Linked DNA regions of Homo sapiens: all the other regions are linked to region 2. The links come from fine-mapping of genetic effects on gene expression. A gene starts in region 2. Each other region holds a variant in brackets. All regions are shown on one strand. Distances are between the middles of the regions. Region 1 overlaps LOC124900374. Region 2 holds the start of MVD (mevalonate diphosphate decarboxylase). Region 3 overlaps IL17C (interleukin 17C).

What was found. PIP is the estimated chance that this variant, and not a neighbour inherited with it, causes the effect.
Region 1: its variant is the best candidate, but not a certain one, in a credible set for the expression of MVD in neutrophils (BLUEPRINT, PIP 0.75).
Region 3: its variant is the best candidate, but not a certain one, in a credible set for the expression of MVD in whole blood (INTERVAL, PIP 0.68).

Annotation. Positions count from the first base shown.
Region 1 is chr16:88,256,597-88,261,814 of GRCh38, forward strand. LOC124900374 reads right to left here. Exons shown (of 2, transcript XM_047435026.1): 2 at 3,551-5,218. LOC107984862 (a long non-coding RNA gene) reads right to left here. Exons shown (of 3, transcript NR_171663.1): 3 at 3,958-5,218. It also overlaps a transcript of ZNF469 not described here. Among named protein-coding and RNA genes, the nearest start is that of LINC02182, 65 kb to the left of the region's middle. RefSeq lists enhancers at 2,110-2,856, 4,027-4,892. The variant C/G (reference allele first, on the strand shown) is at 2,538.
Region 2 is chr16:88,660,508-88,665,725 of GRCh38, forward strand. MVD (mevalonate diphosphate decarboxylase) reads right to left here and starts at 2,584. Exons shown (of 10, transcript NM_002461.3): 1 at 2,504-2,584. The coding sequence starts at 2,573. SNAI3-AS1 (SNAI3 antisense RNA 1) reads left to right here and starts at 2,866. Exons shown (of 4, transcript NR_024399.1): 1 at 2,866-2,893. RefSeq lists silencers at 2,329-2,748, 3,089-3,248 and an enhancer at 2,829-2,878.
Region 3 is chr16:88,639,937-88,645,140 of GRCh38, forward strand. IL17C (interleukin 17C) reads left to right here. Exons shown (of 3, transcript NM_013278.4): 3 at 1-532. The coding sequence ends at 136. It overlaps CYBA (cytochrome b-245 alpha chain), which reads right to left. Exons shown (of 6, transcript NM_000101.4): 6 at 3,353-3,635. The coding sequence ends at 3,417. Among named protein-coding and RNA genes, the nearest start is that of IL17C, 4.0 kb to the left of the region's middle. RefSeq lists an enhancer at 681-1,508. The variant C/T (reference allele first, on the strand shown) is at 2,409.

The DNA.
Region 1 (5,218 bases), 400 kb before region 2:
AAGAGCATGTTTTAGCTTTTTAAGAAGCTACCAAACTGTCTTCCACAGTGGCCACACCATTTTGCATTCCCATCAGCAATGAGTGAGAGTTCCTGTTGCTCCACATCCTCGCCCAGCATTTGGTGTTGTCAGAGTTCTGGGTTTTAGCCACGCTGTTAGGTGAGAGGCGATATCTTATGCTTATTTTAATTTGCATTTCCCTGATGACATGTGTGGTGAGGAGCCTCTTTTCTTTCTTCCTTCCTTCCTTTCTTCCTTCCTTTTTCCTTCCTTTCTTTCTTTTCTTTTCTTTTCTTTCCTTCTTTCTTTCTTTCTTTCTTTCTTTCTTTCTTTCTTTCTTTCTTTCTTTCTTTCTTTTCTTTTCTTTCGTTGATGGAGTTTCACTCTTGTTGCCCATGCTGGACTGCAGTGGCACAATCTCAGCCCACTGCAACCTCCGCCTCCTAGGTTCAAGTGATTCTCCTGCCTCAGCCTCCTGAGTAGCTGGGATTACAGGCATGCACCACCATACCCCACTAATTTTTTTTTTTTTTTTTTTTGCATTTTTAGTAGAGAAAGGGTTTTGCCATGTTGGCCAGGCTGGTCTCCAACTCCTGACCTCAGGTGATCTGCCTGCCTTGGCATCCCAAAGTGCTGGGATTACGGGCGTGAGCCACCGTGCCCAGCCGGGAGCATCTTTTCATATGCTTATTTGCCATCTGTGTATCTTCTTTGGTGAGGCGTCATTTAAGATCTTTGGCCCACTTTTTAAATTGGGTTGTTTATTTTCAAATTATTGAGTTTTAGGAATTCTTTGTATATTTTGGATAACAAGCCTCTCTTCTCAGATATTTCCATCAAAAATATTTTCTCCCAGTCTGTGGCTTGTCTTTTCATTTTTTGGCAGCATCTTTCACAGAGCAGAAGTTTTCGTTTTAATGAAGTCCAGCTTATCAATTATTTCTTTCCTGGATCCTGCCTTTGGTGCTGGATCTAAAAAGTCATTGCCAAACCCTAGGTCATCTAGATCTTCTTTTATGTTATCTTCTAGGAGTTTTATAGTTTTTCATTTTTCATTTAGGCCTGGGATCCATTTTGAGTTATTTCTTTGTGAAGGTCCATGTCTAGATTCATTGTTTGCAAGTGCTCTTTTTATGTGCATTGATGAGGTTTGGGAAGGTCAGTAACTTGGACAAAGCACACACCCTGGTCAGCAAAGGAACCCCAGACCATGCTTCTATCCATAGGGCTGAGCTGGGGCACAGCTTTGTGGAAACTGAGTTATGTATGAGACCCCACAAAAGGCTTAGAATCACTTCCCTTTTCCCCTCTCACTTCCTTGGCTCCAGAATGAGAATAGAATGTGCGTCCAGAAGCTCCTTTCAGTCTGCATCCTCTGACCCGTGTGCCCACATGCTGCAAGGGCTCTGATGCCCTCTATGAAGTACAAGGAAACACTTATAAAATAGCTAAATGTGCAGTTTTGCCCCAACCAGAGGTGATTGCAATAGAACCTGGTACAGACCAGTAGAAGCAGGCATTGACAATTCAAAGAAGAAATAATAGACAAACATAACAGAGAAAGAAACATAATTGAGAAACAGAAAAATTATGGGAGACACATAACAGAGAAAGGGTGTGTGTGTGTGTGTGTTAGGGAACAGCCACTATGTTCTAACTTTGGGGAAACATCATTAAGATCTCTGAATTACTGTGTCACAGAGGAAGGGATTTCAAGACCACCTGCTGACATTTGAGGATTTTGCTCAAGGAAGGTTCCTGGAAGGGAGGGGCCACTCCCATGAGACAGCACAGCTCAGCAGAGCTGAATGGCTCACCCCCCCACCCCCCCAGCTTACCCCCTACATTGCCGATGGCCTTCTCTGCCAGGGATAGGGGCCCTGGAGCCATCGGCTAAAGGAGGCCCAGCACAAAAGGTGCCCAAGTTTATTGAGGGTTCTGGGCTAGAAGTTTAAGGCAGTAATATTGGAGAGAACCTTCTTCGTGGTGACTCTAGCTTTGGGGACGCTAAGCATGGTAGCATTTGGCACAGACCCATGAGTTTAGACACTTGGAGATTTGAGCGTTTGGGTGAGGGTGACGATGATGGTGGTGGTGGTCCTTGTGGTTCTGATGAACTCGGATGACATTTTAGAGGGTTTGCAGCAATGCAGAAAACGCAGCCCCAGCCTCATGGAACTTGCGTTCTGGCAGTGGGAGGTGTACAAACAGCATCCCTCACAGTAATCCTTCTACACAGATGTTATGCTTATTCTACACTCAAGGAACCGAAGCTCAGAGATGTCCACAGCTTGCCCAACCCACACAGCAGGTGGTGGTGAGCCTGGATTTGAACTGCCTTGTCCGTGGGGTGGTAGAGATTTGAGCTGAGAAGACACACGTGCCTCACCAAAACTCGTGGGAGTATTTTGTTCTCAGGGGTGACTGAGCACGCCATTTCCTCTTGACCCAGCTTAGCTCAACCCTTCAAAGGACCAGAGAATGGTATGTGTGTCTCTTTCTCTTTAAGCAAACTTTCCTTAGGGGAAAAGAAAAAG[C/G]CATGCCACAAGGCAGAAGAAAGTCGCAGGAATGAGGCCGTGCGGCCAGGCCTCGCGGCCACCCACCGGCTTGTGAGTGGGAAGCAGTGGGATTTCCTCCCGGGCAAGCCGACCCACCCCCCGCCCCCCCGAAGCGGGCCAGAGAGGTGTCCTCGGTGGGTCAGGAAGGGTCGACGCCCCCTCCTTCCCTCAGCCGCATCCCGCGCCCCCATCCCTCTGCCCGCCAGATTCTGCGGAGTCTGCGAAACAAAACCGCCGTTGTTTCCAGCCGGGCTGCTCAGGAAAAACAACAGGTTTTTCCACTTTGGGGCCTTTGTAGATGTGGATGCCCCGCATGCTTCTCCTCCGCTGCAGAAGGCTGTGGTCTTCTGTTCATTTCGTCAGGAAATACTCTGGGAACTCTCCAGGGCCACGGCAGCTGGGGGCCTGTCCAGCCTCCAAACTTAGGGGTTCCCTGGGACCCCAGAATCCCTATGAGCCCCAGGATCTCCCAGCCTGACAGCCACCCCCAGGCACCGCGCTCTTTCTCCTCCCAAGATGCCTCTCCTCTGCGTCTCACCCCCACCTGCACTCACACCAATGTCCCAGGGTCTCCACACACCGTGGCCCCCAAGCGGCCTCCCCAAAGTCCAGGCGCTGATCCCTCCCTCCAGGGAGAGACCCCTGACCCTGGGGTGGGGGGCTGCAGGCTCCGCCGAAGACCCTCCTGGACATCTGAGCAGCAGAGCTGATGTCTTACTCCTAGGACACAAGCCCCATCCGGACATTTACAGATTTACATATTTTTTCTGTACATCTAAAACTGTTTTAGAATAAAAAGATAAAAAGTCACTTTTTTTTTGTTTTTTTGTTTTTTTGTTTCGAGACAGAGTCTCACTCTGTCACCCAGGCTGGAGTGCAGTGGTAAGATCTTGGCTCACTGAAACCTCCGCCTCCCGGGTTCACGTGATTTTCCTGCCTCAGCCTCCTGAGTGGCTGGGATTACAGGCGCACACCACCACGCCCTGCTAGTGTTTTTTTTTTTTTTTGTATTTTAGTAGAGACAGGGTTTTACCATATTGGTCAGGCTGGTCTCACACTCCTGACCTCAAATGATCCTCCCACCTCGGCCTCCCGAAGTGCTGGGTTGACAGGCGCGAGCCACCGTGCCCAGCCAAAAAGTCGCTTTAAAAAGCATTCGGCTGAATGAGGGAACGAGTGTTTCCACAATACGACACGATGTCAGGCTCAGCCTAAGGCCTTGGACTGAGCAGGTTTCAATGAGCTCTGGGCCCCTGGCCACGGTTGCATCTCCGGCCGTCAGTCCTAAGCCTCGCTCTGGGGACTGTCTAGAGTGGTAGGTGCTGGTCTGGGTGCACACACGTGTCCCTTGTGTTTGCTGCTGGGAGGACGCCGCTCTCACAAATTTTGAGAAATTGGCTGGGTTTAGGAGAGTGGAGGGGCTTTACTCTTTTACAAAACTGCTTGATCTTTGACGTTCTTCTCAATCATGCTCGCGGCTCCGTGTTGACTAGGATATAGAGCTAAATGCCGTCATTTCTTTTCTCCATGATCAAATCTCAAACCCATCTGTACTGGCCCCAGAGATATCAGATCCTAATCCCTGGGACCTGTGAATGCTACTTTACACAGAAAAAAAGGGTCTCTGCAGATGTGATTGAACTGAGGATCTTGAGATGGAAAGATTGTTCTGAACCATGGTGGGGCGGCGTCTGATGGCATCAGGAGGTCCCGATAAGAGGGAACAGAAAGAAGTTTAAGACACGGAGAAAAGGAGGAGGCTGCGTGGCCACGGACGCAGACTCTGGTGTGATGCAGCCATGACCAAAACGCCTGCAGCCCCAGGAAGACAGAAACACGGCGGAGAGGATCAAGTGAAAATGGGGAGCCCGGGCCAGCGTCTGGGGGTCTTGGTGCCTGACGGGGGCTTCCTGGTTCTAACAGCTGGGATGCGGTCCGGAGAGGCTCGAGCACGCTGCCACTATCCCAGGAGGCAATCAGCGATCTCACGCATGGTGGGCGGGACACAGGTGGGCCCTTCTGGGGCCTCAGCTGCTGATGCGGGTGGGAGAGGAAGGAGCCCGCATTTGAGGGAGGCAAAGTGTGCAGAGAGAAACACTTTGAGGTTCCTTTTCCTTGTGAGAAAAGCCCTGGGTGCCACCGCCCCTCACACGGCACCACCTGCCCCTCCCTGTGGCAGAGGCTGTCCCCATTCCATTTTGGGCTGGGGGAGGCTTGTGGTCCAAGGCTAAGGGGTAAGTACATGTGCCGCAGCCCTGGAATGCACAGTAGGTCATGCCCCCCGCTGAGGAATTGCCAGAGGCGGGGGACTTGTCTGATGTCACACCTGGCCTCACCCAGTTCTGCTGACGGATGGGCAGCCACAGGACCCGAAGTCCTGAAGCTTTGGGAAGTATGAGCCTGTCCTCTAGAAGGGCAGGTCCTGGCCTTTGTAAAGAGCTCATTTTGGTGGATTGAGAACCTGGAGAAGTGAAATTAATGAGCTGAAAGTGACACCTGCCTTTGACACAGAAAGTCCACCAGCCGCTCCTCCCCCAGCCCTACCACAGGGCAAGTTCTTGGCCCTGTGCAGGTCTGTCTCGGGTGGGGGCTGCCTCGGTTAACTCCCCTTCCCGTGGCTGTGGGGAGAGGCAGGGAGCAGCTGTAGAAACCAAGAATTC
Region 2 (5,218 bases):
GGTGGCGCACACCTGTAGTCCCAGCTACTCGAGAGGCTGAGGCAGGAGAATCGGTTGAACCCGGGAAGCGGAGGTTGCAGTGAGCCGAGATCACGCCATTGCACTCCAGCCTGGGTGTCGCAGTGACAGTCTGTCTCAAAAAAATAAATATAAAAGTAATACAAATAAATATAAAAATATAAATATAAAATAAATAAATATAAAAAATAAAAATAAAAGGCCAGACGCGGTGGCTCACACCTGTAATCCCAGCACTTTGGGAGGCTGAGGTGGGCAGATCACGAGGTCAGGAGCTTCAGACCAGCCTGGCTAACACGGTGAAACCCCATCTCTACTAAAAATACAAAAATTAGCCAAGTGTGGTGGCACGTGCATGTAGTCCCAAATACTCAGAAGACTAAGGCAGGAGAATTGCTTGAACCCAGGAGGCGGAGGTTACAGTGAGCCAAGATTGTGCCACTGCACTCCAGCCTGGGTGACAGAGCAAGACTCTGTCTCAAAAAAAAAAAAAAAAAAAAAAAAAATAGCAGAAGAGAAAATCCAGAAATAGACCCACACAAACATGCCCAGCTGATTTTTTTTTTTACAAAAGTGCAAAAGCAATTCAATAGAGGAAGGATAGCCTTTCTGGGCTAACTGGACAACCTTGGATCACAGACTTAAATATAAAAGGCAATCCTGTACAACTTGGAGGAAAGCAGACAATCTTCAGGACATAGGGCTAAGCAAAGAGGTCTTAGACTTGACATCAACATTGATACACTGAACTTCTTTAAAATGAAAAACTGGCTCTTTGTTAAGAGGACAAAAAGATTAGCTAGTTTGGGAGACAATACCTGCAAACCACATGTCCAACAGGAGACTAATATCTAGAATACATATTTTATTTTTTTTCAGTAGAGACGGGGGTTTCACCATGTTGGCCAAGCTGGTCTCAAACTCCTGACCTCAGGTGATCCGCCCACCTCAGCCTCCCCAAGTGCTGGGATTACAGGCTTGAGCCAGCGTGCCCAGCCTAGAATGTGTAATGAACTCTCCAAACTTATAGTAAAAAAGCAAACCATCCAGTTCGAGCGTGGACACAGAATATGAAGAGAGATTTCACCAAGAAAACCCACAGATGGCAAATAAGCACAAAGAAAGATGCTCCACGTCACTGGCCAACAGGGAAACGCGAATGAGGACCACAGCACCCTGCCAGCACATCCCTACCAGGACGCGGCTAAAATGAAAAACAGCAACTCCACCAAATGCTGGTGAGGATGCGGAAAATCTGCATCACCGTAGGGATGCAAAATGGCCCAGCCACTCTGAAAAACAATTAGACAGTTTCTTTAAAAAAAAAAAGTATATATATAATATATATATGTATATATACACACACATACATCTATATAGGTGTATACATATACACACACATATATCTATACAGGTGTATATATATATACACACACACAAACATACATATATACATAGAAAGAGAGAGAGAGACAGAGAGGCATATATATATATCTACCATCTGACCCAGCAACCGCACTCCTGGGCATTTATCCCAGAAGAATGGAAATGTATGTTCACACAAAAACCTGTATACAACATTTTATGGCAGCTTTATTGGTAAGGGAAACACAAAAAAATTAGCCAGTCGTGGTGGCGGCTTCTGGAAAGAAAAGAAAGAAAGAAAGAAAACGTTAGATGCTCTTTGCGGGGTGAGGCCTTGGCTAGAGAGAGGGTGGTCCATGGATTCCACGGACTGGCTCAGCAACAGAGGGGCAAAGCACTGATACAATCCCGGGGCACGTCCACATTCTATGCTGAATGAAATAAGCCAAACTCAAAAGATACTGGGTGGGCCACATAACTGCGATTCCAGTTTCAGAACATTTTGAAATGACGTTACAGAAATGAGTGGTCAGTGGCGGCCAGGTAACCCCGGCGCGAGGGGAGGGGCGGGGCTGTGAACGCACAGGTGCGGACCGGCCTCCCCGGCACGGATGTGGGCCTGCGGGCCCCCCATTACCGCTCCTTGGAGGTTACCGCTGGGAGAAACGGGGCGAGGGAGGGACACAGGGTCTCGGGCTGGGGGAGCAGTGGCGCGATTTCCGCTCACTGCAGCCTCGACCTCCCGGGCTCTGGCCATCCTCCCGCCTCAGCCTCCCGAGTAGCTGGAGCCACAAACGCGCACCACCACGGCGGATTCTTACGATTCATGGGAATCGATGATTGATGATTTCGATAGTTCGGTAATCGCTAATGGGCAGGCGCCGGGCGACCCTGCAGGGGCGGCAGCCGTCGCGGGGGAACGGGTGGCGCCGAGCTTGTCACGCGAAGGAGCGCGCGGCCCCGCCCGACCACCGCCGCGCCCCTCCCTGAGCCTCAGTTTCCCCGTCTGTCGAGGCCCTGGGAGGGCAGGACGGAGCGCGCCGCCGAATCAGCGCGCGACCCCCGCGTACCCGGCCTCGCTCCCGGCCATCCCCGTCCCAGGCCGGCCCGCGGCACTCACAGTACTTGATGACCGCGATGTTGACCGGCGCTGTACAAGTGACTGCCGCCAGCGGCTTCTCCGAGGCCATGGTCCCACCGCGCAGTGACCCCAGCTCCACAGCCACTTACGGCCCGCGATCCCACCCCAGAGGCCTCTGCCTCCTCACGCGCTACCACAGGATTGGCCCGTGCGAGCCCGGCTGCTCGCGCGCCGACCAATCAGCGGCGAGTCGGGCGCACGCATTACCTCTCAGCCAATGGACGGGATCGGACGATGGGTTGCTGACGTAGGTCCGCCCCACCCGCAGGGTGCGCTCGCCAGGCCTGGGGCGTGGTGTTGTCTGCGCAGGCGCCGTGTGCCCAGGCGCCTGGCGTCCGCGTCGGCGATCCGGGGTCTGGGCGCGGCGAGGTGGGCGCTGTTGCCTGTGGGGGCTACCTGTCTGCTGGTGCTGTGCGGGCTTGTGCGGGGCTGTGCGGCAGCTGTGTGGGGCCCGTGAGGAGCTGTGCGGGGGGCTGTGCGAAGGGCTGTGTGAGGCGCTGTGCTGGGGGCTGTGCGGAGACCTTGAGGCGCTGTGCGGGGTCCGTGAGGCTCTGTGTGGGGCGCCGTGTGGGAGACTCTGCGGGGGCCGTAAAGGGTCCGTGAGGCGCTGTGTGCGGGTTGTGAGGCGCTGTGCGGGGACCATGAAGGGGCCGTGGGGCGCTGTGCGGGTGCCGTGGGGCGCTGTGTGGGAGGGAGGCTGTGCGGGGCCGTGGGACGGTGTGCGGGGCTGAGGGGAGGGCGGGTCGCGCTGTGCCCTCCTTGAAGCTCTTGGACGGCCCCGCTGGGTATGGGGGTGCACACAGGCCCGAGGGCAGGCGCTGGAGGATGTATCCCGGGATCCACTCTTAACCCGGCAGCCGAAGGCACCCTGTCCCGCCGCCCACAGCCTTCTCCGCGCCATGTCCTGGGCCAGGATCCCCCGCCACGGGGCTCACACGAAAGACCCCGGGGCGGGGAAGCCCCGCAGCCCGGAGCTGGGTCCAACCTGCATTAAGGTGGGCGTCTCAAATACCCCCTGTAAGGCCCTGTAGGAGCAAAGCCTTGGACTGGGTTGCGGCGCTTGTGTGTGCATTGACTTCTCCTGTGAAACGTACAGGAACATTTAAGCGTGCCGTTCCCTGCCATTCATTCCAATCATGTGCCACGCCCCCACTATTTCTAGAGTTTTCTCACCCCAAACAGAAACTCTGTCCCCTTAAAACAATGACTTCCCATTTTCCCCTTCCCCTTTTAAAATTTTACCTTTAGTTTTTAAATAGCTCAGATTGGCTGGGCATGGTGGCTCACACCTGTAATCCCAGCACTTTGGGAGGCCGAGGTGGGCGGATCACGAGGTCAGGAGTTTGAGACCAGCCTGGCCAACATGGTGAAACCCTGTCTCTACTAAAAATACAATAATTAGGTGGGCGTGTGGTGCACGCCTGTAATCCCAGCTACTGGGGAGGCTGAGGCAGGACAATTGCTTGAACTCAGGAGGCGGAAGTTGCAGTGAGCCGAGATGGTGCTGCTGTACTCCAGCCAGGGTGACAGAGCAAGACTCCATCTCAAAAAAAAAAAAAAAAAAAAAAAAAACTCAGATTTCGGAAAATAGGGGAGTATGCAGTGTGAAGTGTCCACTCTGCCTAGCCACCTACTTCTATTACCAGAACCATCATACTTATAAATTCTTTATTTTTTTCCAGAAATAGAAAAAAAGTCTGTTTTTTTTCTCACTCTGTTGCTCAGGCTGGAGGGCAGTGGTACGATCAAAGCTCCATGCAGCCTCGACCTCCTGGCTCAAGGGATCTTCCCACCTCAGTTTCCTCAGTAGTTGGGACTACAGGTACACACCACCATGCCCGGCTAATTTTTTTCTTAATTTTTTTGTAGAGATGTGGGGGGGTCTTGCTATGTTGCCCAGGCTGATTTGAAGTCCTGGCCTCAGGGAACCCTCCCATCTCAGTCTTCCAAAGTACTGGGATTAGGTGTGAGCCACTCCACCTGGCCTGTCAATTCTTTGTGTATTTTTTCATTGACGTGCATAGTACAAGCACATAGCGTGTTCTCCCACCTTGCTTTTTCTACGTACCTTCTTCTTAGAGATCATCCCAATTTAGTAAAAAGCTTCCTTGTTTGTTGTCTAAATATACCTGGTCTGTCCTAGTTGGGTTGTTACTATAAACAGTGCTTTCCTACGTTGTTTGTGCACATGTATTTCTGCAGGAGAAATTCCTGGAAGTGGAATTGCTGGGCCAAGTGGGATGTGCCTGAGTACTTTTGATAGCTGTTGGCAAGTCGCCCTTTGTGGAAGTCAATTGATTACTCAGGTCTCTCTGCGGAAGTCTGAGAGTGCCTGCATGCCTTCACCAGCACAGTGGGTCACCTGCCAGAGTGACATGTGTTGTCTCACTGTTTTCAATTTGCATTTCAGATGGTGGTTATTTTTAATTTCTCTTGCAATCACAGCTGCTTTTCCATTTTATGCAAAGCCACTAAATCCTATTGAAGAGCTGATGTGGACTGTCTCGGCCTATAGTCAGGGTGTATTCCCTCAGCTACTCAGAGAGAGTGGGGCTTCCAGTCACCTCCTTCCTTCTGCCACGGCTGTGATGAAAAAGAAGACACAGGCTTGGTGCTTTGGGAGGCCAAGGAGGGCAGATTGTTTAAGTCCAGTAGAAAAAAAAACAATTTATTTTTGTTTAGAGACAGGGTCTC
Region 3 (5,204 bases), 21 kb before region 2:
GAGCCTGCTGGTGCTGCGCCGCCGGCCCTGCTCCCGCGACGGCTCGGGGCTCCCCACACCTGGGGCCTTTGCCTTCCACACCGAGTTCATCCACGTCCCCGTCGGCTGCACCTGCGTGCTGCCCCGTTCAGTGTGACCGCCGAGGCCGTGGGGCCCCTAGACTGGACACGTGTGCTCCCCAGAGGGCACCCCCTATTTATGTGTATTTATTGTTATTTATATGCCTCCCCCAACACTACCCTTGGGGTCTGGGCATTCCCCGTGTCTGGAGGACAGCCCCCCACTGTTCTCCTCATCTCCAGCCTCAGTAGTTGGGGGTAGAAGGAGCTCAGCACCTCTTCCAGCCCTTAAAGCTGCAGAAAAGGTGTCACACGGCTGCCTGTACCTTGGCTCCCTGTCCTGCTCCCGGCTTCCCTTACCCTATCACTGGCCTCAGGCCCCCGCAGGCTGCCTCTTCCCAACCTCCTTGGAAGTACCCCTGTTTCTTAAACAATTATTTAAGTGTACGTGTATTATTAAACTGATGAACACATCCCCAGAGGCCAACATTCAATGCGACATTCTCCCGTTCAGCCCTGGTCCAGGCCAGCCATGGACCCAATTCTGGGGTGTCCTTCCAGAAAGGTCTACGCAGCCGCGAGCAGTGCATGCAGGTGGGACTGAGCTGTAGCACGGGGGGGTCACAGGTGTCCCTGCTCTGCCCACACAGTGTCTCCCCTGAGGACACCCCTGGGAACAGGAACCAGCCTCCTTCCTCAAGCAGTGCCTTGAGCCCTATGCTTTGTAATGATGTGAGCGCCTAGGGGCACCCTCTCGGCCCCCAAGGCAAGTCTCTGAGGATGAACTGCAGGGCTGTCGGCTCAAGGCAGGGCCCCCAGCCTTCGTGGTTCGGATCAACATCCAAGGCCAAGCGCCCTCCCTGATGGTGAACTAGCCACGCTTCGGGACCCAGGCTCTGTTGGAGATTTTAGTTAAGGGGCCCCGGGGGGAGCAGCCCCAGTCGTGGAAAGGGGGCCCAGGCCTGTGACAGTCTCAGGGTCTCAGTCTCTAGGCCCCCGGCCCCAAGGGCTGACATTGCCATGGGGCTGCTGGGCAGTTGTTAGCCCCTCCCCTGCCTGGCCCCCTGGCTCACCCACCTACTGCGTCCAGGTGCCTGGAGATGGGGGTGGGGGTGCTGCACAGAAGAACAAGGACTCCACTCAGACTCCCAAAGCAAGAGGCCTCAGGGAAGACTTCCTGGAGGTGGTGGCCCTTGTCCAGGAGATGGAATTTTCATTCAACACATTTATTGAGTTTCTTTTCTTTCTTGAAAAAGGGTCTCGCTCTGTTGCCCAGGCTGGAGTGCAGTGTGGTATGACTTCAGCTCACTGCCACCCCCACCTTCTGAGTTCAAGCGATCCTCCCAGCTCAGCTTCCCAGTACAGGCGTGCACCACCACACCCAACTCATATTTGTATTTTTAGTGGAGGCGGGGTTTCGCCATGTTGGCCAGGTTGGTCTCGAACTCCTGAGCTCAAGTGATCCTCCCACCTCGGCCTCCCAGAGTGCTGGGATTACAGGCGTGAGCCACCGCACCCAGCCATATGAGTTTCTACTAAGCACCTGGCACTGGGAACAGGCCGAGAACAAAATGGTGAAAACCCTTCCTGCCTCCACGGTGACTAATGAAACAAGTGGTGTGTAGTCTGTGAGTGAGTCCAGGACAGAGGCTCTGGGGGAGGGGCTGCAGTTCTTTTTTTTTTTTTTGAGGAGTCTCGCTCTGGCCCAGGCTGGAGTGCAATGGTGCGATCTCGGCTCACTGCAAGCTCCGCCTCCCGGGTTCACACCATTCTCCTGCCTCAGCCTCCTGAGTAGCTGGGACTACAGGCGCCCGCCACCACGCCCGGCTAATTTTTTGTATTTTTAGTAGAGACGGGGTTTCACCGTGTTAGCCAGGATGGTCTCGATCTCCTGACCTCATGATCTGCCCGCCTCGGCCTCCCAAAGTGCTGGGATTACAGGCGTGAGCCACCGCGCCCGGCCAAGGGGCTGCAGTTCTAAGCAGAGGGTCAGGGAGGCCTCGAAGACCTGAAGGGGAGGAGGAAGGAGCCAGGCAGCCATGCAGGGAACAGCTCCAGGCAGCAGGAAGAGCCCATGCAAAGGCCCTGAGAAGACACATGCTGCGTGTGTCCAAGGGTCAGAGAGTGGCCTGCGTGGCTGATGCCAGGTGAGAGGGGGACCGCAGGGGCAGGGCAGGGCGCTGGGGGTGCAGATCATGTCTGCCCTGGGGCCATCAGAAGCTTGTGGCTGTCACTGGAGGTAGCTGAGCCTGTGGGTTCTGAGCCTGCGGATTCTGAGCCGGAGGCACTGGGGTGAGGCTTTGGGTTTCAATGGCAGCATCAGGATGGTTTCAGGGGATGAGGGCAGAG[C/T]GGGAGGCGGCAGGTGGCCTGGGTGGGGATGGCCCATGTAGCTGGGGTCTGGATTTGGGCCAGGATTGGATGTGGGGTGTGGGGGTTTCAAGGGTGACCTGAAGCTTGGTGACCTGGGGGGACGGCTGAGATGAGGCTGGATTGAGACGTCTGTATGGTGCCGAGTGTTGGCTGGTGGGGGGTGGATTCTGAAGGCCCCCAGGAACAGAGGACCCTGGCTCTGAAGTGTGAGTTGCTGGGAGAGCAGGTGGACAAGCAGCAGGCAAGGGCTTCTCCGGCCTCAGGGGAGTGGGTGCCTTGGCGAGAGCCCAAAGGTGGGGGACGTGGCTGACGCCGGGCAAAGCTTTGGGGGCACCGGGCTGGGGTGGTGGTGAGGACCTGTGGGCAGGTGTGTGTGCAGCCAGCCACAGCCTCCGCACAAGTGAGGGGAAGGGGTGGCCAGAAGCCCCTGCAACTTGGCCTGAGCGTCCTGGGCAGCTGGGGGGCCCCCCAGCATCAGTGTGGGGGCAAACAAGGCCACATCCGCCACCAGCTTCACCCCAGCTTCTACGGAAAAGAGGCGCAGGGTAGAGGCTCACCACGTGGCTCCGACCCTGTTCCCTTTTCACTTAACGCCAGCGGCCTCCTCTGGAATCCAAGCCCCTTAGGGAGGCGTTAGGTGTGGAGGGCCTGCAGGGCCTGCAGGAGCTGTCAAGGGAGGACTCTGCTGCCTCCTCCAGGCCCGGGAGGACCTTTCTAGGGAGGCACACACCTGGAATCCAGGTACTATATTTCGTGGAATATACGGTACCCGGGATTTCGTGTGCTGCTGAGAAGGAAGGCGATGCTGATGTTAATGAAACTGGAATGCGGCCCGGCTGGCAGGAAACGGGGTGCCTGCCCAGGCCTCGGGAACCATCGCTACCCCAGCCCCGCCCACCGGCCCCAGGCAGAGGCTCACGCGCTCCCGGCTTCGCTGCATTTATTGCAGGTGGGTGCACCTGGCGGGAGGGCAGGTCCGGGGCGAGGTCACACGACCTCGTCGGTCACCGGGATGGGGTTGACCTGGGGACCTCCCGGGGGTCCCCCCGCCGCCACCGCAGCCTCCTCCTCGCTGGGCTTCTTGCGGGCCTCGGCCGGGGGCCGCGGCGGGGGGTTGCTGGGCGGCTGCTTGATGGTGCCTCCGATCTGCGGCCGCTCCCGGGGCTTGGGCTCGATGGGCGTCCACTGCTCGCCACGCACAGCCGCCTGCGGGGCACTGAAGGGTTGAGCCGCGCCCCAGCGCCCGCCCTCCCTCCCTCCCTCCCTCCCCGGAGGCCCACCCCGCTAGGGGCCCTGGGACAGGCTCAAGTCTGAATCCCACGCAGGATGGTGTGACTGCCACTCAGAGAGGTTAAGTGACGCGCCCGAGGCCACACAGCCAGGACCTGGGTCGGCCTGACACCAGCCCAAGCTATTTCTTCATGCCAGGAGTGGGGCCCGAACCCCTGGGCTTCTGGAAGATCCCGTGGTGGACACTCCCAGATGCAAATTCTAGTACTCAAATTCTCCTCTCAAGGTGCCAAGGGCAGGGAAGGCAGGGAGGCAGGCCCGAGGTCCAGCAGGAGGGGTGGCCCAGGAGAGTAGCAGGCCCTGCTCCGTCTGGTGGGCGCCATTCACCCACGCTGGCCGGCAGCCCCCCAAGGGTGCCCAGGCATTTCTGCACATGGGGGTGGTGGGGGGAGAGCTTGAAGACCACGGGATTCCACTGGCTTTTACTAAAAATACAGACTCCTGGGCCCATGCCCGGAGGTTCCACTGCAACAGGTCAAGTGGACCTGGGAGTGTGTGCTTTTCATCTTCTATCCCATAATATCTGGTGGAAAAATATGTCACATCATATACGTCATGAACAGAAAGAGAAACTGGACATGTGTGATCCTACCTGACTCCAAAACGGAAACATTCCATTCTGAAAAGCAAAACTAGAAGGCTGATAGAAGAAAAGGCAGGAACGTGAAGGCAGGACCCAGGGCCAGGGAAAGGTGTTTTCACAAAGCACAGACCATAGAGCAGGTGAACAGGGAAACCTCTGCTCTTCCGTGCAGTGAAGGACTCCACGCGCCAAGTTAACAGACCCTCACCAGAAAGCATGAAGGCATCCCCAGTGTTTAAAGGTTACAAAGGCTAAATAGCTAAAATATATGTGGACTTCCTGCAACTTAAGAAAAAGACAATCAGGCCGGGCGCGGTGGCTCACGCCTGTAATCCCAGCACTTTGGGAGGCCGAGGCGGGCGGATCACAAGGTCAAGGAGATCCAGACCATCCTGGCTAACGCGGTGAAACCCCGTCTCTACTAAAAATACCAAAAATTAGCCAGGCATGGTGGCACGTGCCTGTAGTCCCAGCTACTCGGGAGGCTGAGGCAGGAGAATTGCTTGAACCCAGGAGGCGAAGGTTGCAGTGAGCCGAGATCACGCCACTGCACTCCAGCCTGGGCGATGGCGCGAGACTCCATCTCAAAAAAAAAAGAAGAAAAAGAAAAATACAAAAACCACAATAGAAAAATGGGCAAAGGATTTGAACAGGCAACTCAAGGGAGAAGAAACTCCAACAGCTCAAATCCACAGTCAGAGAAGGGCGAGTCCAAGCTCCACACGGCCAGCTCGTGCTGTGAAACTGGCAAGCGTGGGAGAAAGCCTAGTGCATGGTGGGAGAGATGGGGCCACATGGCTGGTGGTGGGTTGTCTGCTGAGGAGCAGCTGAGCCCGGCAGGGTGAACGGTGCAGAGGCTGATGCCTGACCCAGCAATTCCTCTCTGGGTTTAGCACAAGGAA